Regions from separate parts of the Homo sapiens genome. Here all the other regions are linked to region 3. The links come from fine-mapping of genetic effects on gene expression. A gene starts in region 3. Each other region holds a variant in brackets. All regions are shown on one strand. Distances are from middle to middle. Region 1 has its middle 20 kb from the start of TMEM177. Region 2 overlaps RALB (RAS like proto-oncogene B). Region 3 holds the start of TMEM185B (transmembrane protein 185B).

What was found. PIP is the estimated chance that this variant, and not a neighbour inherited with it, causes the effect.
Region 1: its variant is the best candidate, but not a certain one, in a credible set for the expression of TMEM185B in whole blood (TOPMed, PIP 0.57).
Region 2: its variant is the best candidate, but not a certain one, in a credible set for the expression of TMEM185B in whole blood (INTERVAL, PIP 0.60).

What each region holds. Positions count from the first base shown.
Region 1 is chr2:119,657,468-119,661,709 of GRCh38, forward strand. It overlaps a transcript of CFAP221 not described here. Among named protein-coding and RNA genes, the nearest start is that of TMEM177, 20 kb to the right of the region's middle. The variant G/A (reference allele first, on the strand shown) is at 1,994.
Region 2 is chr2:120,284,073-120,288,314 of GRCh38, forward strand. It overlaps RALB (RAS like proto-oncogene B), which reads left to right. Exons shown (of 5, transcript NM_002881.3): 3 at 1,802-2,010. Among named protein-coding and RNA genes, the nearest start is that of RALB, 33 kb to the left of the region's middle. RefSeq lists enhancers at 1-74, 3,468-3,637. The variant G/A (reference allele first, on the strand shown) is at 1,755.
Region 3 is chr2:120,221,327-120,225,568 of GRCh38, forward strand. TMEM185B (transmembrane protein 185B) reads right to left here and starts at 2,074. Exons shown (of 1, transcript NM_024121.3): 1 at 1-2,074. The coding sequence starts at 1,650. The coding sequence ends at 598. RefSeq lists silencers at 1,673-1,872, 2,023-2,392, 2,112-2,272 and an enhancer at 2,367-3,030.

The DNA of each region.
Region 1 (4,242 bases), 560 kb before region 3:
ACAGGGCAGGACATAAGCATCAGTCATTTTTTAAAAACTTTTTATTTAGAAATATTTTTAAACTAAAGGAAAACTTGCAAAATAGTACAGAAAGTTGCCATCTATATTTTACTCAGATTCCTCTAACATTAACATCTCCTGCGTGACAATGATCAGAAACAGGAAATTACAATCGGTACAGCTTTATTGAGTAATGTCCGTTCAGTGTTCCAGGAGTCCACACTGCGATTGGTCAACGTGTCCCCTTCTTCTCCTCATCTGTGACAGTCCCTCAGTCTTTTCTCATCATTTGTGACCTTGACACCTTTGACAGTTGTTTTGTAGACTGGCCTTCAGAGTGTGTGTGTGTCTAATGCTTTCCCAAGACTAGGGTGAGGTTATGCATTTTTGCAAGAATTCCACAGAAGCGTTATGTCCTTCTTGGTGCATCTTATCAAGGGGCTTGTGATGTCGATATGTCTTCTTACTGGTGATGTTTACCTTGGTTGCTTGGCTAAAGTGGTGTCTGCCAAGTTTCTCCACTGGGACATTAATATAATCATGGGGAGAGACTTTGAGATTATGCAAACATCCTGTTTCTCCTCAGCTTTTTTCCCACTCTGTATCTACGTATCTTTATATGAATTCCCACTTTAGCATCCATTGGTGAGTGGGTCTTGTCTGCCACAACCATTACCATGATGTCCACTTAATGATAATGTCCATGAGCTGTCCCTCACCGTCATTTAGTTACTTCTTTATTCAGTAGATTTTTATATCAGCATGGAATCATGGACATTTATTTTATTATATAGGTTATAATCCAACACTACCGTTGTTTATTTTGTTCTCAAATTGTTCCAGCTCTGGCCATTGGGAGCCCCTCAGGTTACACCTCTGACCTTTCAGTGCATCCTCGACCTTTCCTAAGCACATCTTTACCTTCCAGCATCACAGTATATTCCAGACTCATCTGTATCTTTCCCACGTCAGCCCTGGAATCAACCATTTCTCCAAGGAGCCCTGGTTCCTTTCACTGGAGAATGGCATTTAGAAATCAAGACCTGCTACAGCAACTGGTACTTGTTGCTACTGTGGTCCAATTGCTTCCGAGCCCTCTCAGTGGCCAGAGCTAGAAAATACAAGTATTTATACTGAGCCCCCCTCAACACGCACACACACACACACACACACACACATTTTCATCTCTCTATCTTTATGTCTTGTATATATATCAAAAAACATGAATTATGGCCAGGCGTGGTGGCTCACGCCTGTAATGCTAGCACTTTGGAAGGCCAAGGTGAGCAGATCGCTTGAGCCTAGGAGTTTGAGACCAGCCTGGGCAACATGGCAAAACCTCATCTCTACTAAAAATACAAAAATACAGAAAATTTAGCCAGGCATGGTGGCAAACACCTGTAGTCCCAGCTACCTGGGAGGCTGAGGTGGAAAGATCACCTGAGCCCAGGAAGTCGAGGCTGCAGTGAGCCATGATCACACCACTGCACTCCAGCCCTGGTGACAGAATGAGAGCCTGTCTCAAAAAAAAAAAAGAAAAAGAAAAAAAAAAAAACGCATTGATACTGATGCTTCCAATTCCAGTCCAACACCTGGGGTTTGTTTTGGCCTTCCTCCTTTCCTTAATTGTAACTTCTTTCCCCTACAGTGAGCAGCTTAGCTCCCATCATCTACGATGTATTACCTTATGTGTTGCTTGGTGTATCCGTAAAGTAACATCCCATTTGCTAACACATCTCCTTGCGAGAAACACATTTACTAACTACATTACAGTATTGGTGTCCTTTTTACTTTGGCTTTATAGAGTCCAGTTAAAATACTGGTTCCCGAATTGCCTGGGCTGGTTCTGTTGCTTTCTTTGTCTCCTACTCCCATCAGTGTGGTTGTGTTTTCATATGAGTTAGGTTCATGTGTTACTGTTTGTATTTCATCTTGGGTTCCCCTACACGCTAGTTGGGTTTAATTATTTATTTCAGGGTACGTGGAACATTAC[G/A]ATGGCTCTAAATACAAAGATACTCAGAGAAGTATCATTCCTTCTCATTCCCAATCCATCTCCATTCCGCCATCTTGCTGCCCCATGGGTACCCACCCTTCCCACTGTGGGCAACCATCTCTTTAGTTTCTGGTTTATCCTTCTTGTGGGTAATTTTTAAGGCCCCCAAGGGCTCCCATGTGCTCCTCTGCATTCCTCCTCCACATTAACCAGTCACTGGCCTGACCTACTAGCAGTTTCCGAAGCATAACCCACTCGTCCGCACCCCTGGGCCTCTGCACATGCTATTCCCTATGACCTCACCACCTTCTTGCTTAGTGTCCTTCTCACCTAAGGTTTCCCCAGGCCTCTGCCCCTTGGCCCCTGTACTGACCTCTGAGGCAAGGCCTACCTAGTCCCTGCTTCTGTGGAGAGGAAGGGCCCAGGCAATGTTTGTTCAGGGAATTGCTTCCCTCAGCATCCACGCTTAATACCATGCTGTGCACATCACTTCGTTCACCAACATCCAACCAGCAGCTACTGAATCCCTGGCTACTTCCACCTACCCAATCTCCCTTTCTTGCTGGGTGCCCCACATTGCATTGTTGGTGTGAACTTTCTGGCTCCAGACTTTGAGCCTGTTCCCATGTCAGTGCATGTACTTATGTCCATTTCAGTTTCCCCACCTATAAACAAGAGCCAATTTCTCTTATTTCCCTGCTCTCCCCAGGTTGAAAAGGTCGTGGCCCCTTGGAAAGATTGTATTGACTGTGTTGGGGATCTGGTGCCACCTGGTGGTTGCCACAAGAAAGGCCTCTCCTGACTCCCAAGTTGTAACCCGTTTCCACCAAATCGACTTCCAAATAATATTTATCAGATCATCATCTGTGCTTTTCTTCCTTGTTTCAGACCACTTTTAGGTGGAAAAGGCAAAGAAGGCTTATATGTATTTTCTTCCATAATGAGTCCATCAGAAAAAGTTCCTTCGGTGAAATCGTTGACCACGTGATGTTTGGGGACTCCCTATGGGATCAATCATCCGGGTTCCTTAGAGACCATGGCCATAATCAGGGGCTGGCCAAGGGAATGAGTATCCCTGGGTTCAACAGCTGTTTCTGAAGACCTGCCAGTTCCCCTGTCTTGCATTAACTCGGGTTATCATGCCATTCTCCTTCTAAGGCCAAAGATACCTGTAACCGAAGAATCGGGATACTTCACTGCAGTCACTTCATTTTTTTTTCTTTTGAGGCAGAGTCTTGCTCTGTCACCTAGGCTGGAGTGCAGTGGCACAATCTCGGCTCACTGCAACCTCTGCCTCCCAGGTTCCAGCGATTCTCCTGCCTCAGCCTCTCAAGTAGCTGGGATTACAGGGACCCGCCACCACGCCCGGCTAATTTTTCTATTTTTAGTACAGATGGGGTTTCACCATATTGGCCAGGCTTGTCTCAAACTCCTGACTTCAAGTGATCCACCCGCCTCAGCCTCTCAAAGTGCTGGGATTACAGGCATGAGCCACCATGCCTGGCCAAGCAGCTTCATTTTAGAAGTGATTATTATTGCTTTCCTTTCTAGAACTTCCGGTTTGTGAAGTATTTTCTCAATGATCCTCAAAACATTCTAAGACATAAAGTAGCTGTTATTAGTGTGATTTTATGCAGAAACTCAGGCCCAGAAAGCTTCATGGACTTACCCAATTAGCAGAAGAGCCAGGTTTGGGCAGGATCTTGGTTTCCTGCAAAGGTTTCGTTGCCTAGCCAGGCGTGGTGGTGTGTACCTGTAGTCCCAGCTACCTGGGGGGCTGGGGTGGGAGGCTCACCTGAGCCCAGGTAGTCAAGGCTGCAGTGAGCCATGATCCTGGTACCCAGTCCACTCTTCTCTCTACTACATGGTAATCAATGAAAATATTACAGATTTACATTTTTTAACTTTTTATTTAAACTTTCAGCTTTGGAGTCTCTAAGAGTAAAGATATTATGTGATGATATTTGTATTTTACTTAATTGCTTATTCTTTAAAACATGTAATATAGAAAAAAATACAAATTAGCAAATGTCCTTTGCTCTAAAGAAATCAGCTGGCAAGTTTGCCCCACCCAGCAGCAGCCATGTCTTACTCATTTCTGTATCCCCAGCATGCAGCAAGATGTTTGGCACAATGCAGGCTCTCAATAAATGTTTTTTGAGGCTGGGTATGGTGGCTCACACCTGTAGTCCCTGCACTTTGGGAGGCTGAGGCAGGTAGATCCCTTGAGCCCAGGAGTTCAAGACCAC
Region 2 (4,242 bases), 63 kb after region 3:
GTCGTGTGTTGGATTTTTTTGGCGTGTATTTTTCTTTTTGGAAAGGAGTTAAAAGAAGGACACTTGAAAGCACAGGCAAGTTTTCACATCTCTATTTGGAGATAATTTATTAGTACACGTTGAAGAGAACCTAATACTAAACATGTCTTAATATTTTTATTTTTGAGTAGCTGTTAACTGACAATACAAGGCTCTTTTTAACAGTCTTCCTCAAATAACCTTTAATTCACTTGGACATTTTCAATTCCATTTTTAAGTTAAAAAAATTTTAAATCACAGCCTTATTAAGATGTAATGCACATATGAAATTCGCTCTTTTTAAAGTGTACAATTTTTTTTTTTTGAGATGTAGTTTTTCTCTTGTTGCCTAGGCTGGAGTGCAATGGCACGATCTTGGTTCACTGCAAGCGCCACTTCCCAGGTTCAAGTGATTCTCCTGCCTCAGCCTCCTGAGTAGCTGGGATTACAGGTGTGCACCACCATACCTGGCTAATCTTTTGTATTTTTAGTAGAGATGGGTTTTCACCATGTTAGCCAGGCTGGTCTCGAACTCCTGACCTCAGGTGATCTGCCTGCCCCGGCCTAAAGTGTACAATTTAATAGGTTTTTTTTGTATATTCATACAGATGTGCAACCATCACCATTATCTAATTTTAGATCACTTTCATCACTCCAAAAAAAACCAACCTACGTATTAGTAGTCATTCCCCGTTATTGCTTCCCCGTCCCACCCCTGGCCTCTGGCAACTGCTTTCTGCTTCTATGGATTTGCCTATTCTGGACATTTCATATAGATGGAATCATACAATATGTGGCCTTTATGTCTAACTTCTTTCACTCAGCATCATGTTTTGAAAGTTGTTCCATGTTGCAGCGTGCGTTGGTACTACTTCATTCCTTTCTCAAAAACCCACACCACTGAAAGCCTCTTGGTACACTGTGTTAGTTCATTCTCTTGATGCTGTGAAGAAATACCCAAGACTGGGTAGTTTATAAAGAAAAGAGGTGTATAGCCTCTTTTCTTCCACAGGGCTGGGGAGGCCTCAGGAAACTTACAATCATGGCAGAAGGGGGAGCAAACATGTCCTTCACAAGGCGCCAGGAAGAAGTGCAGAGCGAAGTGGGGAAAAGCCCCTTATGAAACCATCAGGTCCTGTGAGAACGAACTCACTATCACAAGAACAGCATAGGGGTACCGCCCCCATGATCTCATTGTCTCCCATAAGGTCACTTCCCCAACACATTGGGATGATAATTCGGATTACAACCTAAATGATGAGATTTGGGTGGGGATGCAGAACCAGACCATATCATACATCTTGCCAAATTACTTTTCAGATGAATTTTATACTTCCGTTATGAATAAGAACTCCAGTTTTTTGATATACCTAATGTTAAATGACGAGTTAATGGGTGCAGCACACCAACATGACACGTGTATACATGTGTAACAAACCTGCACATTGTGCATATGTACCCTAAAACTTAAAGTATAATTAAAAAAGAATTCCAGTTTCTCACCCTTGCAGGTGTTTGCATTAAAATTTTATACTGACAATAATATTGCCAAGTGTTCTGCTCTGTGCCTGGTTTCCTCATCTGTAAATTGGGATATCTGCCTGTATTGTTTAAAAACAAAAAATGGCAAAACAGAGCTATAAAGAACAGAAGTGTTACGTAAAATGTTGCTTCTGTAGTGTCCTGTTCATAGTGTGAAGTGCCCATATGTGGAATTTTGTTTTTTGGCAGATTTT[G/A]TTCCCCTTAAGACTTTGTTAATTACCGATAATGTTTATTTCCTCAGTTTGTAGAAGACTATGAACCTACCAAAGCTGACAGTTATAGAAAGAAAGTGGTTCTTGATGGGGAAGAAGTTCAGATAGATATTCTGGACACCGCTGGGCAAGAGGACTACGCAGCCATTCGAGATAACTACTTTCGGAGTGGGGAAGGGTTTCTTCTTGTGTTCTCAATCACAGAACATGAATCCTTTACAGCAACTGCCGAATTCAGGTATGTCTGAAATGAAATAGCAGAAGCCCCCAGGAAGCTTTTTGCCTTTTCTCATATGTCTTAGGCCTATGAAGAATTTGGGGCTGAGCATACTAGGAGAGGGCTGAGCTTGTTCTCAGGAATAATTCTGTCTAAAGAATCTTCTGGGGCTTTCTGAATCTTGGCACATTATAGACTATGATGATTATAATCTCTTTGGGCTTTCCTGATCTGTGATTTCTGAATAAAATAATTTTAAGAGTCTTACTGTCCCCGAAAACAATGAAGCTATTCCATATAATCAAGAACATATAATTTTGTTCCTATAAATACTCAGAGATTTTCATTGATAAATTAACCATCTATCCTTTAAATAATGTTACTAAAAAAAGTAGCAGGTTTAGTCTGTGTTGAAGGTTATGAAACAATGACTGGAAAGTGAAAGATGGGAGTCAAAATGACCATTTGCTGCTACTTAAGGACTTTCAGCACAGTGGAGGGACGAGAACGCGGCTTTAGAGTCAGGAGACCTGGTTTGAATCCCTGCCTTGCCGCTCACTGACCATGGGCAAGTTTACTTAGTGTCAGGATTTTGTTTCTTTCTCTGGAAATGCACTTGTGAGTTGAGAAATGAAATGAAAGGATGTATTAGACTGTGAATTTCATGTGGGCAAGAACCTGGCTACCCTCCATTGTCCCCTGTCACAGTGTAGACACATGGTGCTTCCATAGTGAGTAGAATATCCATTGTTATTTATTTTAAAATATGGCAACTATTCTCCATGAAGGTGTTAGAGAAGAAAGAAAAAGAAAATATAGCAGTGAAAAAAATACCTTCAGTTCATTTTGTTATAAAGAAATAGCCTTTTGGGCATAATTCTTATGCTCTATAAATGTCTCTTTACCCCATGCCCTTCCCTTTCTCCTACATAATTGAGTTTTAAAAAATCTGTTCTTCTTATAAACATATCTATCTAGATGACTTTTTAAGAAGCAGATCTAGAGTTTAGTAGGGAACTGAAGAGAAAAAACCCAAAAATCAAATCAGTTTTTTTCATTCTTCAGCAAGTTCTGGTCTGACAGTAAGGTGGTCAACCAGAGGTGAAAAGGAGAAAGCTAGCTATCCTTCCAGGACTTGGATGGAAGCATCACTGAGCCAGGGAGGCCTCGGGTGAGCACAGGTCACCCAGCAGGGCTAGTGAAAGATAATAGGGAGGTGCCTCAGTGATGCTTCATAGCTCCAGGCTTCAGAGTCGAAGACCTACTTTTCTGGAAGCAGAGTGCGTGTGGTGCAGTGACTAGTTAAGTGACTATGACTCATTATGAGAAGTTCTGTTAATTTTTAGACATTTCAGACCTTCCTAAGGGCTGCTCTGTTTGAATGTAGCCCATGTATTTATAATTGTTTGCATCTGCGTAGTCCTGTTTTTAATGCCTCATAGAGGGTAAAACAGGACAGATGCACACACTCTCTTCTTTTCTTCCCTGTCCCGAGCCTTTTGATTTCCTGTTGTTCTGTGACTTACTTAGAAGGGAAGTGGGCAGGAGAGTTCTCTGCAGAGGATATGGAGAAATACAGGTATTTCAAGTGCTCCTTGTCCTCTCCTCAGTCACCACACATGCACAGATAGCACTCGGGCGTTCTCACAGAGTTGGAGCAGGGCTCCCCTCAATGTGGAAAAGGGTTTTGGTTGTTAGGTGGAAAGAGAGATCCTTAGAAGAAAAAGGACAGATGAATACCTAAAACCAGAAAGAAGGGGAAGTTGACCTCTGCGTAGGTTTCTCATGTTGTTGGGAACAGAAGAATGCAGGTCAATTATCTGAGCCCTGTGGCTAAACTCAAGTCACTTTACTTCATGTCTGTTAGCAGTTTTAAAACAGCATTTGTGTACTATCTTCCAAATAGAAAGGCCCCAATATAAAATGACATGTGAATATGCTGTCTTCCTTGAAACTTTTTCTGGAAAATATTTTATGAACTAAGATAAGTTCTGTCATAAGAGACCAGAACTTGGTACTCCCATTTTTGGATCGATATGTTTATCAATGAGGTAATTTTGTGTGCCCCTGCAAGACTAATGAGCCAGAAAGCTATCAGTTTTTATTGTTCATAGTTTATAATGATCACATGACTTCAAATGTATCATGTTCTTTGACCCCAGTTCAAATGTAGGCTATAACAAGGCTACACAAAGCCAATTTCAAGCATCTTTTCATCTTTTTTAGTTTGTCTTAAAATATTTGATGTCTGGC
Region 3 (4,242 bases):
AGAATTCAACATATTACACTGCTAAAATATTCATATAAATACTATATATGCATGGGTTCATTCCATTAGAAAAATTCACCTATCAGAATATTAAAGACCAGTATCAGCAAAGCCCAAGGAGAGAGTATTTTAACAGTAGGAACACTAAAAATATCAACTATGAGGTTTATAAACAAGTGGTGGGAAAGAGAACTTTTTACATTTGCTATTGTTATGACAGGCACAATCTGAAATACAATTTTAGATTAGCAGTGTATAAAAATACTTTTTAAACAATAGTTTTGATAGGTACAGTAGCATTTAAACAAACAGCTGTGTGGTTATTCCTTTTGAGGACCTACTAAAACAATTCGACTTACTGCCCCCAGCTACACCTGAAAGTGCGAACCTGGAAAGCAAGTCTCTTACCCAGGTACACATCACACACACCCACATACTGAAACCACCTCCATCTATGATGCATACTGATGAGGCGGTGATCTCAAACACGGCGTGAGACGAGTGTTTGAAGCCTGTTTCCATTTCCAGGTTTGGGATGAATGAACAAGAGGCGAAGGCCAAGTGGAGTCTGTGTGTGCCTGGGTCCTCTCTAGGAGTTTAATCTGGCATATCAATATTTAACTTGGGAGGGGGGGGAACGTATTTCCCAGGGCTCTGGGTTATAACTACTCTGGCCTTCTTTCCAAATATTGGAGCAATTTTCGGAGCTTCTGGAACTGATGTTTCTTCAGCATCTTCACTATCTTCGTGATGGAGATCATATGAAATGTTCCCATATTCTCTTAAAAATGGGAAAATTTCAAGCAGAAACTGACAGAAGTCTCTGCGAATGCCAAACCACCAATGATTGCCCCCCTTTCGCCTAAATGTTGTGGCCATTAAAGTTAGTAAGGAAAGCCAAAGGGGGACAAATATGGAGACGTAGGAGAATGTATTGTGGCCATCCAATCTGTGAACCAGCAGGACCTCAAAAGTGAGCAGAGGCACGACAATCGTTATCCAACTGATAGCCATGGTCACGTGTGTTCTCCGCTGCTCGGCAACCACATCCAGGGACCGCAGGAACAGGAGGGACCAGACGATGTAATAGAGGACGACCAGGCAAAGGAACGACATGAGGATCCACAGGGGCACAAACACCACCAGCCACGGCCAGTGAATAATCCTGTCCAGCTTTAGGGCGATGAAGATGAACTGCAGGATGTTGACCGAGCACAGGATCTCCAGCTCCAGCGACCTATCGTGTCGAAAGCCCCAGACGCAGGCAGCCACGGACACGGGGGACACGAAGAAGAGAGGCATGAAGACCAGCAGCCAGAAGTGGGTGCCCCTCTCCACCCTGTCGCAGACCAGGACTTCGAACATGAGCAGCAGCAGGTGGATGCCCACAGCGATCAGCATGGCTTTGAACTCCACACAGGCCTCTCCCTCGGTGCGGTAGCGAGGGTTGCGGGCCCAAACGCCCGCGCCCACGGAGGCGCCTGCGACGACTAGAAGCTTCCACAGCCATATGGGGGCAAAGACGGCCCAGTAGCTCCATTGGATGATGCCGTCCAGGCGGAGGGGCAGCAGCACCGAGAAGAGCAGCAGGCAGGTGTAGATGAGAAACTTACTGGGGTTGAAGTCCTGGAACAGGCCCCTGGGGTTCATGGCGGAGGCCGCCGCTTGCCTGCCCGGGCCTGCTCCCTCGCGACGCTCGGCGCTCGCGTCTCCGCGGCTTCTCCGGCCGCCGCCTCCCGGGCCCCGCCCAAGCCGGCTCCGCGTGGACGAATGCCGGGACGACCAGGAGGAGGTTCGGAGCGGCGAAGCGGAGAGGCCGGAACACGTGCACGCGCGGTCACGTGGCCCGGCCGGAAGCGCGCTGGGGTGTGGCGCGCGCGGGCACGGGCGGCGCGGCGGTTACAAACTGGGCGCTGCCTCGGTCCCGCCGCCGCCCGCGTTCACTCCGTACCCATCAAGAAGGCACCTAATGCGTGTGGGGCCCGAAGGGGCCTGGCGCGCTGCTGACTCCCCAAGCGGCCCGCGACCTTGGGCGGACGCTTCCAGGCGACTCCGGGAACATGGAGGCGGGAGTGAGCTCACATCCTCCCTGCCGGCCGGGGCGGGCCCTGCGGGGGCGGGGCCGGGTGGAGAGGGCGGGGCCTGGGCGTTGGCACCCTACCCATCTCTGCCGGGATCCTCGCCTCCCCGCGCTCGCCGCGGCTTCCCGGGAACCCGCCCGGGGCTAGAGCGCCCGCGGTGAGGCTCCAGCACCCCGCGCGCGCGAGCAGAGGCGGTGGCCGGGCTAGTGCGGGAGTTTGCGAGCGAGGGAGCGGGTGCCGGTAACTGAACGGATGCAAGGCGATGTGCATGAGCGCAGACCTGTGGGGGCCGGCGGCGGGTGTATCCCTGGCTCAAAGGAAAAGGCCCGCGCGTAGACTCAGGGCACGAGGTGGGGGGGCCTTACCTGGGATGAAGACTCGCGGGGCAGAACTCCGCCTGGTGGAGCAACGGACGTTTCTCAGGCTGCCTGCGAAGTGGCTGTGCAGAGATCCCAGGCGGCAGCGGCGCTCTTGTACCTGTCCCTCTCACTCCAGAGTGGAAGGTGCTGGTGAGGGTGTTAGACCCCACTCGGGAGGAAACTGGATCCAGACCAGGGTTGGGGGTTGCTTTCTGCCCCAGGTCACCCGGCAGGTTAACAGAGAATCGCGTCGCAGATACAGGGCTCCTACCTTCAAGTGTCTAGTCCTCATTTTGACTTATTTGGCCCTGTCTCTGTGTTATTCTCGCAAAACCATGTTTTCCTTTTCCTTTGGAAAAGGGTACTGGACCAGAGGTCAAGAGATTTGGGTTCTTGTCCAGGCCGTGCCACCCATCAGCTGAGAAACCTAGGCAAATTCACCTCTTTCTCTCTGGGCCTCAGTTTCCTGGTCTATGAAGTTGGGGGACAGACCTGGGTGGTGTCTAAGGGCAAGGCTGCAGCGGGTCTGTGATTTGGAGCACCCCTTTCGCCCTCTGGCCATCTGGGCAGACCCTGGAGGATTTCTGTCTTCCCCGCTGTCCCACTGCTCAGCAGAGCCCTGGCTGCCCTCACCAGTCTCTCCTAGTCCTCTTTTCCTGAAGTGGCTGTGGGATGTTGTCACGCAGGTCCTGGGCTCTGAAGTGGGACAGGCCATCAGAGGAACGCATGGCCTGTCAGGGCCTCCGCGGAGTGGCCCTCCCGCACCCTCACAGCACTGCCCCAGGCGGGCATGAGCAGGGTGTCCAGGTGTCGGGCGGACAGTCCCAGCCCCCGAGGCGCTCTCCACAACTTCACTTCAGCCACAGGCAATCTGTGGCCCTGGGGAAGGGAGTCCAGCTGAGTGAGCTTCACCAGTCCTCAGGCTCAGCCCTTAAGGCTGACTTCATAGATGTGTCTTCAGGGCCTCTTGTTTCTGGAGAGCCTTATCTCCCTCCATTCCTCCCCTAAACAGAGTTGCTCCAATCTGTCTGTTTTACACATTGGTCTTTTTTGTACTCTTTTCTCCCAAGAAGGATTTGTCAACTAAAAATTTGTAAAAGTGGAAAACCCCCTCACCAATCCAACCTCTTCATCTGTGAAATGGGCTTGGAAAAGCACACAGGATTGTTTTGAGGATTAGATGAATCAATACATGGAACTTTGCACTTTGCATTTAGAGACCTGCAAGTAATTGATTTGACCCCACTAGGAAAGCAGAGCCCGTGGAGGGGAGGCGCTGCCAGGAGCGCCCCCACCCTCCGGGAGCTGGTGGCAGAGTCAGGTCCTCTGGACCCTGCGAGAACAGTCAGAAGTCCTTCCCAATCACCTATGTAGTCAGATGAACTCAGGGCCTCTGCTGCCATCTTTGTGGCAAAGACAGAGCTCGGAGCTTATTTTCCCACCTTGAGCTCCTCATTCAGAACAAGTGCACCCTCTCCATCCAAGAAGCGGGTATCAAGGTGTCCTGTCACAGTGCAACAGTGGCTCTGCTGCACAGCTCCTGAGGGAGGGCAGACCCAGCTTCCAGGCTTGTGCCACAGGGTGAGGGATGCTGTCTGCCATCTGTCCCCAGCTGGCTTCCTTTGGCCTGCAGGCCTTGACCCCTCCCCCATCATGCCCTGGGCATCAGACACCCCTCCTTCACTGTTTTCCCTGATGCGGCCAGTCTCTCAGACACCCGCCTTTGTCTTTTATTTACCTGTAAAGCTAACATGGATTGTTTGCTATGTGCCAGGTGCTGGCGGCATAGCAGTCCCCAAGGC